Homo sapiens: one gene and its partner. The protein of the gene in region 2 interacts with the protein of the main gene of each other region in a biochemical or structural test. Each region holds a gene or a part of one and is shown on either strand. Other genes may lie near its edges.

Region 1 (7,030 bases), on a different chromosome or scaffold from region 2:
GTTCCAGTAGAATTTTATTTATTTGTTTATTTTTGAGATGGGGTTTTGCTCTTGTCACCCAGGCTGGAATGCGATGGTACGATCTTGGCTCACGCAACCTCTACCTCCTGGGTTCAAGTGATTCTCCTGCCTCAGCCTCCTGAGTAGCTGGGATGACAGGGGCCACACACCTGGCTAATTTTTGTACTTTTAGTAGAGATGGGATTTCATTAGCTGGTCTCGAACTCCTGACCTCAGGTGATCCACCCGGCTCAGCCTCCCAAAGTGCTGGGATCACAGGCATGAGCCACCACGCCCAGCCAGTAAAAATTTATTTACAAAAACAGGTGGTGGGCTGTACTTGGCCACGGGCCATAGTCTGCCAACCCCTGCTTTAAATGACTCTAGCTCCCAGCCTTCAAGTCTTCCGGCTGAGGGCCCAGACTTTCTGGAATAAAGACAAGCTGTTCCTGCTGTGCCCCTGTCTGAATTCCTGCCTCACAAAAACTGTGACAGATAATACATAATTATTGTTGTTTTAAGCCACTAAGTTTTGGGGTAATTTGACATGCAGAATAACCAGCTCATACATACACAAACCCTGTGTGTATGCATTAGTTCACTCATTCCTTCATTTGTCTGTGTGTTCATTTCACAGGCATTCAACAAGAACCCATCGTGCGCTGAATACAAGGGATGGGGGATGACAAGACACAGTTCCTGGCACCACAGAGCTCAGAGACTGTCACTGAGGTAATCCCAGCTCACTGTGAGAGGCGTCAAAAGGAAGAAGGAGGGAGGTTCCTGGAGCCAAGAAGAGACACCTAACCCTGTGGGGGTGTGGGCAAGAGGAGAGGTCTGAGCTGTGTCTGCTGGGTGTTGGGAGGAGTAACATTTCAGGTAGAAGGAAGAGGTGGACAGCCCCATGAGAGTGGCTAGGAGAAGGGGCAGGTACGTGGTATGGTAAACCTGGGGTCGGCCTCCAGGAAGGCTCAGGTGCAGGCACTTCATCTCCCCACAGATGTCTGGTGAGGCATCTCCCACTGCTAACATGCCCCTCTTTCATGTGGAGGCGTCAGAGCGTGCGCCAGACACTGGCCACCCTGTGGCAGAGACGTGGGCTCTGGGAGGTCCTCAGCCCATATTCAGAGGCCTTGACTGAAGACAAGGCAGTGGCTAAGTGGCTTTGCCACCTAAGAGGGTCCTGGCCTGGGGCACCTGTCCAGCTGCAGGATATGGGGGCTCCCCAGTCATTCCAACCAAAGTGGATGAGCACAGGGAGAAGGGCAGAAAGGAAGAAAAGGAGCAGGAACAAGTGCATGCGGCCCAGGAACTTCAGTGGCGACCCTGAGACCTGCAGAACAGACCCACAGGCCTGCTAGGTCTGGGCTGGGGGCACACAGGCCATAGGAGTGCCCTACCTGGGGTCTGGTAGTTGAGCCTCCGCATCTCCACAGGGTCAGAGGAGTGGGCCAGCAAGGAGTCCTTCAGTCCGATCGACTGCTCATCCTTAGAGGACGGAGAGTGGGTCCTTTTCCTAGAGAGACAGAAGGGAGGCTGGTGAGAACCTGAGGTCCAGGCTGAGACAGTGACACATGGCATGGCTGGCTGCCAAGGAGCCCCCATGTCCACGGCTCTGTCCTCCTACTGCCCCACCTCTTCCCAGGATCTCTGAGCGCGGAGGAGCCAGGGCCAGAACAGCCTTGACATGAGAGAACACAGGGCAGGGAGGGGGTAGGGAGAGCAGGAGTGTGGCGTGAGCAGAGGGGCAGTGCAGCAGGGAGGAAGGGGTTGCAGGGGCGAGCAGCTCCTTTGGATAGAAGGCAGGTCACTGCAGGACAGTGACTGCTATCTCCAAGGCCACCCAGCTGAGTAGCAGGAACCACCGGGAACAAACATGCAAATGACACATAAAATACACAAACAGCACAGGAGACAGGGCCCCAGCTTTTTGGCCCTCAGAGTATCAGGGTAAATGCCCAGGGCAGCAGGGGAGGGACGGGAAAGGCGTCACCCTAGCTGGGCAGAGTCCTCTCTCACTGGCCTCAGTTTTCCCATCTACAAGGACAGGGTCAGAGACAGACCATAGGATTCAGCTGCCAACAAATAGCCAGAGGCTACTTGTGGTCTGCAGACGCATGTGCTTCGGAAAGAAGAATTTGAGTGAGTGTGCTCAGGTGGGTACAAGGACATGCCTCTCTGCTGTTCCACACAGTGACTGCTCTTTGCTCTGTGCGAGACTGTCTCTCGCAGCACTTAGGCAACTTCTCAGAGAACTGGGAGCCGGGTGATGGTTCTGGTGAGCTCTGTACGCTCAGGGAAAGCAATGCAGTCTGTATTATGTATGTGCCCCAGAGAAGAAGCATCCTCTGCAGAGTTGAACTGGCAAGAGTGAGACAGAAACTGCCTCCTCACACCAATGAGGACTCAGTCCTGAACCAGGGAGCCTGCTGAGCTGACTGGACAGTTTGCTGCTTAAAGCCATAGGCCAGGGGACTTCTGGTCAAAGCGTCATCCCTCCCTGCTGGCCCAAGGATTAGAAGTAGAGGGGGAGGTGTGTGAAGAGAGAAGGAACAACTCCTACCTTTCTTGTTTACTAGGTCCCGAAAGACAAGCAAGGACAGAAGAAAGGAACGGTCACAGTTTCCACCAAGCACTCAGCCCTCTAATGACATGGGGACCCTGCAGGCCCCTTATATGGCACCCACATGACATTCACAGGGAGGGGGTCTACCTCTCTGGACAGACCCAGAATGCAGGTGGAAGTGGGAAGGATGAGTGCATCTGTGGGACACTCCTTAGGGACCCGCCCACAGGTCCATCCACCCTGGGAGGAAGGAGTGGACTCTTTAGGAAGGAACAGTGGGTCCAGGGTAGGCACACAGGATACAGGCTCTCCTGCATGGTGCAGAGATGTGCTCAGACACACAGACTAGCATATCTTCATCTGCCAGGTGCTCACTGACATGCCTGTGGGCTCAGCCCAGTGCTGGGGGCTGAAGGCTTGGCACACAGGCCCAGCTGCGTTTGCAGTGGAGCATCACAGGGGACAGCTGTGCAAGGAAGGGGTAGGGGCCAGGCAAGGCCTTGCAGGCACCAGAGCATGGACTTGAGTCCTGAACGATGAGATTGCTGTTGCCAAGTGGGCAGGGGGAGGGAGATCCGCAGAGGGCACACCCTGTGTGGGCCTGAACACTGAATGAGTTCAGTGTCGCAATGTCAGGAGTGTGGCAGGGGTCAGATTAGCCAGGTGTTTGGCTGTCAGGCTAAAGAGGGTGGGCTTTACGTGGGCAGCCATCAAAAGGTTTTAAACTGAGAGTGACAAAGTTAAATCTTTGGAAATCCCTTTCAGGCTGGAAGGTGCACGGATAGGAAGGGAGACTCCTAGGGCAGGTGGTGGCCACTGCCGATAGAGAACTGAGTGGGAAAGACACACTGAGGCTGAGGCCGCTGCGGATGGCACGGGCACAGCAGGCCATCAGTCATGTCTGTTAGTGAGCATCCATGGCCTGTGGGCCTCCAGCTCGACCTCTCTAGGCCTAAGCAGGAGAGTAGGGCTGGGGAATCATCCAGGAATGGTGGCAGAAGGAAAGGACTCGAGGTAGGAGCTCAGGAGATGGCGGTGTCTTAAAACTGAAGAGGAGACAGACGCACTCTTATCCACAGAAACACAGAGACAGACAGACGTGCCAGGGATGCACATGAGACAACCCTCTGAGGCTTTAGTTCCTCACGCCCAGGCTGCTGCAGAGGCTCCCTCACCTGACAGATGCAGGCCTGCAGACACAGGTAGGCACACACACTGCTCCTGCCCTTCCTGCCTTCCTGCTGAGCCTGAGGCTCAGGGTCCAGGATGCAAGGCTGCACGCTCTCCACAGGCACCACACCCGGAGAGGGCCTGAAAGGCGAGGGGCAGGTGGCCGTTCCCGGAGCTCTGAGGGCAGTGCTCACCTTTTGAACAAGAGGATGGCGATGACAATGAGGATGATGAGGATGACTGCCAGCACGGGACCCGTCACCCACAGCATCTCCGGCTCCTCCTGCTGCTGGGCTGGTGTCACCTGGACCACGATCTCATCCGAGTAGGGGCTGGAGGCATAGCGCTTCTGTGGCCCGGTGGAGAACAGCAGGCTGTGAGCTCAGCGTGAGAACCCCCCACCCTCTGCCTATTAATCCTGGAGAAAGGGCTCTGGGTCTGGGTTACCCTGGGCCTGGTCTCCCAGACCCTACAAGGTGGACCTGGCAGGACTGGGTCCCTGGAGCCACATTAGGTCTGGCCTCTGGGTCCCAGGGCCGCGTCTTAGGATCCCCGGGACAGATCTTGGGTCTTTAGTGCTGCCCCAGGATCTCGAAGCCCCCAAACTGATAAAGACCTGGGGTCTTGTGGTGTTTGAGACTGGCATCGTCTCAGGCCAGGCCCAGGGAATCAGGGTGCTGACAGCCAAGCCGGCTCAGGCAGACCTGGTCCATGGGTTCCTTCAAGGAGGCAAGCACAAAGCACTGGTAGCTCAAGTCCGGAGACAGGGGCCGGTTGTAGAAGCCCCGGTAGTTCTTCTTGTCCCCCAAGGTAAAGGTCTCCGGGAGCACATCCAGTTGAGCAGCCACATATGGCTTCAGACGTTCTGCCTGCCGCCGCCGCCGCCGCTGCTCCTCTCCGCCTTGCTCGATGGCTTCTAGAAGCTGGCAGAGCAGAGCATGGGGGTCATGAGGGGCCTTGGAGCATGCCGGCCAGCCCTGAGGCTGTGGCCTGGGATGTCAGCTCCCTGGGCCGAGATCAAGGCTCACCTTCCGTGTCAGAGCCCACACCTGCCCAACCCACTGCCCCTACAGAGTAACAGACACCGTGAAGCCACTCCTCCCCACCAGCCCATGAGAAGCAGCCCTGTGTGTAAGCTGCCCCACCCTAACCAGGCTGTTGCCACACTGGCTATGAGAAAGGACTGAAGGATTTCAAACATTCAGGGACTCCTGGCTATAAGGCTCACTAAGCCCTCCATAGCTTCTAGATCTGCGAGGCTCTGCAGTGTCTACAGGGCTTGGCATTCTCTAGACCTGCAGAGGCATCTCCACGACATCCCACCCCAGGGATTCTTCGTAAGCCCTCCGGGAGTTCTGTGAATACTCCCAGATGGTTTCCTCAGAGTCCCTCTCTCCAGAGAGGGGCGGGCTGCCAGCCAGAAGAGAGATTTCAATTTGGGGAGTGAATCTGAGAGTCACTGGGACAGTGCTCAGGGCAGGAAGGCCACAGCTGACCACTGCAATGGGGCTGTCAGTGTCCCCATCCCCTCCCCAGGTACCTCGTCCAGCTCCAGTTCCTCGGGTGTGCTCCACCTTGGCGTCAGCATGCTCCCGCCCACACGGTCAATGGGCACCACAACAATGTAGAACCACCTGGGTGGGCAGGGCAGGAATCAGGACTGTCACTGCTGGTTACCTCCAGCCCTGCCCCGCCTCCCCCGATACCTCGTGTGCACACCTGACAAGCGAGGGGTCTTGCACATGGGGCATGGAGAGATCGAAGCGGCCGTCCTCTATGTAGGCAGAGGCAGGCAGCGGCTTGTGAGGCAGGAGGTCGGGGGCTGTGCGGATGGACACCAGGTGCTGCAGGCCCCCTGCGCTGCTGCCACGGTTCATCAGCACAAACGAGTACTCTGTGTTGGGCTGCAGGTCTGCGATCAGCTTCCGCATCGAGTGCCCGTCCACCTCCACACTCTGCCCATTGTACAGAATCTGTGGGGGACGGGAGGGGCAATCAATGCCTTTGGGTGAGGTTCCCTACCACGGGCTGCAAGGCACAGTGCACGGATACACAACCACATTCCTGCTCCACAGCCGGATGCACATGGGTTAGGACTGGAAAGACAGCACCCAGCAGGCCTGTGTGTGTGCCAGGCTCAGCTGGCCGTGGCCCTTACTCACCTTAAAGGGCACAGCTGACTTATAGGAGTCGGGAACCTCCCAGCTGAGCAGCACAGACGTCTTCATTGCAGCCGCCACCCGGAAGTTCTTGGCAAACACTGCAAAGGCATAGAGAGAGTCAGCTCTGCTGGGTATATGAGGTGGGGTGAATGGGCTGGAAGGGTGGAAGGTGAATGGCCAGGATGAGACACTGGTTGGGGAACAGGGGGTTGAAGGATGGCTGCAGAGTACCAAGCGCCCCACTCCCAGCCAGCTTCAAACGGCACAGTTGAACTCCCAGCCCAAGCTCTTCCACAGTGAGCACCAAACAGGGCGGGGGATGCCACAGCAACCAGGGTCAGAATCTCCAGAAACGCGAGTGTAAAAGCTTGAGCCGATGGACACCAGGCCAGAGTGATCAGAGGGTCAGTGGGTTTCGGTCATGAGAAGCATGTGGCCACACACCAGAGCGTGGTGGAGCATGTTCACTAGAGGTCGGTGGGTCATGGCCCCAAGAGATTAGTGTCACACACCAAAGATCAGGAGGTTGCACACCCAAGAATAGTGACACAGTCAAAAGAGATCAGTGGGTCAAGGTCACAAGAGATCAGAAGGTCATACAGCAGAGGTCAGTAGGTTAAGGACAGCAGAGGTCAGGCATCAAGAATGTGGTGCCCATTCACTAGAGGTTAGTGGTCACAGTCATGAGAGATTGGAGGTCACACACCAGAGGCTGGTGGATCACAGTCGCCAGAGGTCAGTGGCTCAAGGAGAGCAGAGACCCCCAGATGCAGCCACACTCGGGAAGGGATGCCATGTCCACAGCACACACCTTGCTCCACCGGCATGGTCCGGGACTGGATGCTGGGGCTGAGTGGGCCAGAGCCTTTGCTGGTCCATGCGCGGACCTTGATGTCGTAAGTGGTGTCTGGCTTGAGGCCAGTAAGGGTAAAGCGGGTGTCTGTCGTGATGTTCTGCAGCTCCTGTTGGCTGTTGATGTCTCGGAACACCACGGTGTAGCTGATGATGCGCCCGTTCCTCTCCGCCAGCACTGGCGGGTCCCAGGCCAGTTCTGTGGTAGACGTGGTCAGTCCTGTCACATGCAGGTTTTGGGGGAAGCCGCTGGGCAGGTCCTCGGGGGTCCTGATCTCCT
Region 2 (7,030 bases):
TGTATTTATATTAATAATACTCTGCTCTTAGGCAAACAGAGGAAAGACAAAGCACTTTTCCATATTTGCTTCAAATGGCCTTTAGCCCCAAAAAATTATGTCAAAGAGGAATGTTTTGAGGTGACACATTCTGTTTCCTTCAGTACTCTCGTTGGTGAGTCTCCAGATTCACCTTCATATAAACTTCCCTTGAACACTATAGACATTTTATAATTCTTTATTTCTGCATTTGCTTTGAGATAAGGTCTTTAGTTATTTGTATGATTTTTTTCTGTGGATAACATGGGTAAGATTTTTAAGCTGTTTTTTTGGCTTAAGTAAATAAAAAGTCAAAATAAAAGTCAACAACCCGCTGCCTTTTATGTCAACATTAAGAACTAGAGTTCTTACATTGCTTTTGCAGTGCAATGTAATGCATTGTATCCTTTTCTAACAAGACTGCAGAAAAATATTATCTGATAAAAAATATGTATTCAATCACCTTTCTTTTCTTTATCAGGTATGGTATAGAGCAGTTTAAAAAATTAAAATTTATGTAATTATTGTATAAATATTGTACAAATTATTGTATAAATTTTCAGATACACCAAAGTGGAGACTATTGTTAAAATATCTGTGTCTCCCACTGACTGCAGTAATAGAGAATTTCTTCTTGGGTTTTAGATTTCCTCCTTCTTCACCCCTGAAACCATATCCAAAGAAGCCCCCAAACCAAAAGGATGTTATTAAATTTCCAGAATGGAATGATCTCCCACCAGGCACTTCACAAGAGAACATCCCAGTGAGGCCAGTTGTGATGGTAAGTGCCATGACTGAAAGATGGAAGGGCTGGCAGCAGGGAGAATCATCCATGAACTCCTAGGCTTGGTCTTTCTGTGGTCCTTTATGAACAATAATTTAAAGGTACTTTAAAACAAAATTGTACCTGCCAACAGCTGGGAGACCAGTAACAAGGAAAGAATGACTCTTGCAGTTTTTCACTCTTGCATGTAAATAGTTGTTGTACTGTATTGTTTAGGGCAGCAGTCCCCAACCTTTTTGGCACCAGCGATGGGTTTCATGGAAGACAATTTCTCCATGGACCAGGGCTGCTGGGGTGGGGGTGGGGGTGGTTTCGGGATGATTCAAGTGCATTACATTTATTGTGCATTTTATTTATATTATTATTACATTTTAATATATAATGAGATAATTATGCTACTCACCATAATATAGAATCAGTGGGAGCCCTGAGCTTGTTTTCCTGTAACTAGATGGTCCCATCTGGGGATGATGGGAGACAATGACAGATCATCAGGCATTAGATTCTCATAAGGAGCACACAACTTAGATCCCCCAGATGCACAGTTCACAAAAGGGTTCACGCTCCTATGAGAATCTAATGCGGCCGATCTGACAGGAGGTAGAACTCAGGCAGTATGTGAACAACAGGGAGCTGCTGTAAATACAGATGAAGCTTCACTCACTTGCCCAACGCTTACCTCCTCCTGTGCAGCCTGGTTCCTTATAGGCTATGGACTGATACCAGTCTGTGGCCTGTGGGTTGAGGACACCTCGTTCAGGGAATAACAAGAAGAAGAAAATGCTACATGTTCAGTACAGATGCAACCATCCATTTTTTTCCTCTGAATATTTTCAATCTGTGGTTGGTTGAATCCATAGATGCAGAACCCATAAATACAAAGAGTCAATTGTATATGGCAGCTGTTTTTATATGTTCAGACTGAGCAGGTTTCTGTTAAAACTCTCTTGTAATCCCCTTTTCCTGTACATTCTATAACTTACTACTCTTCTTCCTCTTTGTCTCTTCCTCCTAAACTGTTATTATTGCCAGTTGAGGGTAAGAAGGTTAGGATGTGGAATATTGTGTACTAGCCCCTGACCAAATATATAAGCAAAGGTAGATTCTTCTAGTCTTAGAAAACCGAAGCTCATTGTAGAATTGACTGCCTCTTTTTTTCACATTTTTTCCTTAAAATACCCCCAGTAGAAGACCACCAGGACTGAGGTGTAATGCTAAAAAGCAAACAACAAAAAAATTTCTGTTCCTTTTGCCATCTTCAGCTGTCCTTGTGGAGCCTTTTGCAGATGGCTAAGATTTGGGGGCTACTTTCGAACATTGCACTTACTTGATATTTGCTTATAAAAAATAGACAGTCCTCAAAAGTAATACATTTTAATTCCATTTTCAATAATCAGTCTGTACAGTGTATGAATTTAGATATGTATTCCTTAATTTTGAATTGATAACATTTTATTTCACTGCTATTTCACTGATTAGTTGAAACGTCCACAGGAAAAATTAGCTAGTTAATGCCATACTTACTGCCATAGCTCTTTTGTAATTCATGAATATTCATTTATAACATGACCTAGTCTTAAGAATCACTCTTTACTTCTCTGAGGTCCATGTAAAGAAAGTTAGTTTATATTTCTAATTATTATTTTAAATCAAGTTACAAGTAACCAAATCAAAGACATTTCTCATAAAAATCCCACCACCTTATATTGAAATATTTATTCACTGTCTTTCTACCGTTTCTCCTTCCCTCCCTTCTTACATCCCCCCTCCATTAGAATTCTGAGATGTGGTACAAGCGTCACAGTATTGCAATTGGAGAGGTGCCAGCTTGCCGTCTTGTCCACCGCAGACAGCTGACAGAGGCCAATGTAGAAGAGATATGGAAGTCTATGACATTATCATAGTATGTACATTTGATATTAATGAGAAATTTTAGAGATATTGTTTCCTATTTTGCTACTTCTTCACTCTCTGCATATTTAATTTTCTGAAATTATGTATAAAAATCTCAACTTTGCATTATTTGCAGTTGTGATCAGCAAACATAGTTTAACTGAATTCTGGGGATTATCTCCTGCTATTTACATAATAGTTAGGAGTTTAAAAGTTCTTAAGAGTAATAAGACACATAATAGAAAATTTGGTCTCCTAGATACTGATGTACTGTATGTATAAAGTTAACAATCATATACAGCAAAATTTTGTTCCTCATGAAGATATGCTAATAGTAGTTTCTTATCATTGGATAAGTTAGTTTTTATGTTGTAGTATTTTTACTTACAAAATTACTTTCTTGTCATTTGGTGTGTTACTAAATCTGTGAAGCAAAATGTTAATAGCAAAAGGATATCTTTTACATTTGTTTTATTGTACTCCATTTCTACCCTTTTTGCCCCGCAAAGATTGGGTGCAATGCATGAAAATAAAGCATTATAAAGATTGATTTTTTGTAGTACCAGGTTTTTGAGTAAATATAATATTAAAGACAGAACTAATTAATATAATTACTTATCTTTTAGCTTACAGAAAATTCTTGGCCTGGATTCCTTAGAAGAAGTTTTAGACGTCAAACTTGTCAATTCGAAGTTCATCATCCATAATGTATATAGTGTTAGCAAGCAGGGAGTTGTTATTCTTGATGACAAGTCAAGTAAGTGCATAAATATAATTTTGTTACTTATTGACATAATATATTGGCTGCACAGGTCCATCAGCTCCTTTCTGACCCTTCCCTAAACCCTGAATAAGTTTGTTCCTTCATTACGTATATTCTTTCTAATACCTTTTAACAAATTGTTTGGAATAAGGGAATGTCATAGGAAGATGAGTATCTAGGAATGAGAGCCTCAGCAAAATCCATCCAGAAGCTAGTTCAGTGTTAGCCACCTTGGGCATTAAGTGGTTTCGTATTCCCAGGGAAATCTCTGAAAAGTGAGAATATTCAAGACATAACCAAGAGTTAGAGTCAGTTTTCAGGTGGGCCCTGGGGTCTGACTGCATTTAGAATTCTCACGTTTTTGTTTTGGCTTCTCTGTGTTAGATTTTCTGGAATAGTCTTGGTTCTTTTTAATAAGGTAGTTTTTGAAATGTTGATATTGCTTTGATTTTTTATATTTCCCACCCTAGACCAGTTTACAAATCAGAAAAAACAAACAAACAAACAAACAAAAGAACCATATAACAGCCACCTAACATGGTTTTTGGTTTGTAAAAATGTGGTTAGGGTACTGATAGTGGACCACAGTCCCCACACTGATTTTAAATCTTTCTGTGGATAAGGACCAGATTTGGATGGGCTCATTGATTTGTTCTTCCTTTAGTTCAAACCCTCGATGCTGGGAATTGGCTGGAACTTGATGATCTTTGGATGTGGGAAGATGGCATAATACTTCTTGACTTTTTAAAAATATGATTAAATTTAGGGCTGGAGGCTCCTGGGAAGCAGACAGAATGTAGCAGAATAGCCTGAGCAGTGGTGAGAGGGGAAGAGATTTTTCTATGCCATGTTTCCTGACAGGAGCAGAACCTGTCTTCAGACCTGAAACACTTCTCCTTTTATAGTCACTATATGAGGAATGGAGGACAATGAGAGACAAATAAGTTTGTGGTGACTTTATGAGTTTTGAGGTTAATATCAACATATAAAATTAAGTTCCATAGAATGAAGGGAAGAGTGCAGCCTTTGAAATACATCTAAAATTCTTCCACATTCTCTGAGTGTAGCAAATTAATATTTTTAGTTATCAGTTAGATGATCAATCATCTTTCATTTTATTAAGTAAGATCTTAAGAAAGAAGAGAGCATTTTACAAGACTCCAGTTCATTAGATCTAACACAATTCAACAAGTGTCTTCGCAGTTTTACAGAAATAGAGAAGATGAAGTGGCAGCCTGAGTGCTAGCCCATCTCATCAGATGTCTGTGGCAGGGCGTGGAGGGAAGAGATTCTGTACCAAATGGTTCAGCTGGGATTTTTTTTGTAGCAATGTTCAGTTACTATTATTTAAAGGTTGTCCTAATACTAATAGCCTAACATTAATATGTCAGTGGAACTTTCTTGGCCTAAAGCATTTTGAAAATGGAAACATGTAAAATGATACTTATATTGGACCTACAGAATTACCCTTTTTGAGGGGCTGGTGGTGTTTGATGAACTTGTTTCACAAATGTGTTTGACGACTAATATTTTTTCTTTTCTTTTTCTTTTTGTAATTCTTAAAATAATTGGTTTGTCTTTTGGTTTGTTTGTTTGTTTGGAGCAAACTATACATTTTTTTCTTTTTACTATAGCTTTAAAAAGGTGCATTGTGTCCTTAGAGAAATCTGTAGGCATTATTTATGTAAGTGCATGTTATAACACTGCTGACAAGGAAAGGTTTCCATCTTTTAAATGTTCTAATAACATAAATTGGTGATTTGTGATTAGCAGATATGGTTCATATTACTTGGGCAAGTAATACATTCTTATGATACCAAGTATGTATATGATGTCTTGAGTTATATGGAATTGAGTACAAATTTTCTTTTTCCTTCAGAAGAACTTCCTCATTGGGTGCTGTCAGCTATGAAGTGTTTGGCAAATTGTAAGTACTAATTATCTGCCAGTTTTGTGAAATTAACAGAAATTAGTGCCCTAAATTAGGAAAAATTTCTGCTCAATGGCCTGAACATTGATGTGACACCTGTGAGACTGGCAGTTAATTATTTTGGGACTACTGTGCTTTTAGTGATAAATTTGTGACTTAGTGAAAGGACTGAATTCTAGAACAGTTTTAAAGGGATTTAGTACTTCTACTTTCTAGTAGATCCATCCACACTAGTTCTAATTGCTTCATCACAGGATGAAGGATGGTTTGGAAGGAGAAGAACCTGCCATGTAGAGAAATGAGAAAGACTGTTTCAGTAATTTGGATGTTAGATGAGAGGGCCTGGACCAGGGTGGTCCCTGTGAGGATTTTTATAGGTATATGAAATCCATTTCATAGGCATGTGATTTCCATATCATTGAATATCATAGGCACTGTGAAGGCATTAGTTGTTATAGTATCTCAGAAACACTACCATTCTTCTGGGAATTTTCACAAGGGTTAACCCAAAGAAGGGATTCTAATGATTAATGGCTTAACCCAAACAAATAATTTTGATGGAAAGAGTTCTAGTTATTTTGGCTGACTGATAATAGTGATATTTGGTCTGGAGTGCCTTTTGAGTCTCACAGATACCACAAGGTAGTAGTTCATTTTCATTTCTTTTGTACGGAACTAGCACTACAGATATAGGTGAAAATTCCCTTTAAATTCGTGAATTAGTAAACCCTAAAACATGGGTTTAACTGAAATTAGTTTTGTTTGATTATAGAATGAAACTAAAATAACTCTTAAGCTTAATGTGGGGAATCTTAGTAGTAGTATATGGAACATGATCCTATGATTTTGAATAGCCTTTTGAAGATGAATGCTATTCATTCATTCTATACTATCCTTCTGTATATGAATAGTAACCATTGGTTTGTGTGAAGCCCAAGGTTCTCTGAGTTTAACTGTTAACATTTTCATTGGTTTTTGGTTAAAATTTGGAGCCTCTGAGATGCAGAGTACTATGGTCTTAGCTTGGGGAAGTGCTTTTTTTTCTTCCTGCTCAGGCATTTGAAGTCAATGAAATTTAAATTACATCCTTGTCTAGGGTTGACAATGATGAGATAGAGAGTATAAATGAGAAGTTAAACTTCCCATTTCTGAACTGGCAAATCAAGGTTTTAGAAGTTCATCAGGCCAGGTGCGGTGGCTCACGCCTGTAATCCCGGCACTTTGGGAGGTCGAGGTGGGTGGATCACAAGGTCAGGAGATGGAGACCATCCTGGCTAACATGGTGAAACTCCGTCTCTACTAAAAATACAAAAAAAATTAGCTGGGCTTGGTGGCGGGCGCCTGTAGTCCCAGCTACTTGGGAGGCTGAGGCAGGAGAATGGCATGAACCCGAGATTGTGCCACTGCACTCCAGCCTGGGTGACAGAGCAAGACTCCGTCTCAAAAAAAAAAAAAAAAAGAAGTTGATCAGCTAGGAATGAACATAGGAAGCTAGTATAACCAATCTAGTCTGTAATATGTTGTAAAATATATAGTAAGATGTTTATGATGTTGAATTTTCAATGATTACTGAAATGTAGTAAAGAACATAATTTTCCCTCAAGCAGCATGTGCACCGAAAGCCAAAAAATTTCTGCAGAAA

The links. Proteins that work in one complex are often made in the same cells at the same time.
Region 1: the proteins of DEPDC1B (region 2) and PTPRF form a complex in vitro, tested with the Homo sapiens proteins (one study listed by BioGRID).

The regions. Positions count from the first base shown.
Region 1 is NC_000001.11:43,603,869-43,610,898, reverse strand, and holds part of PTPRF (receptor-type tyrosine-protein phosphatase F isoform 1 precursor), read right to left. Parts: coding exon 6,710-7,030; intron 5,997-6,709; coding exon 5,899-5,996; intron 5,710-5,898; coding exon 5,456-5,709; intron 5,371-5,455; coding exon 5,277-5,370; intron 4,660-5,276; coding exon 4,441-4,659; intron 4,086-4,440; coding exon 3,931-4,085; intron 2,576-3,930; coding exon of another isoform or gene 2,564-2,575; intron 1,517-2,563; coding exon 1,401-1,516; intron 1-1,400. UniProt on the Homo sapiens protein: Possible cell adhesion receptor. It possesses an intrinsic protein tyrosine phosphatase activity (PTPase) and dephosphorylates EPHA2 regulating its activity.
Region 2 is NC_000005.10:60,641,167-60,648,196, reverse strand, and holds part of DEPDC1B (DEP domain-containing protein 1B), read left to right. Parts: intron 1-663; coding exon 664-799; intron 800-2,577; coding exon 2,578-2,705; intron 2,706-3,321; coding exon 3,322-3,452; intron 3,453-5,337; coding exon 5,338-5,385; intron 5,386-7,030.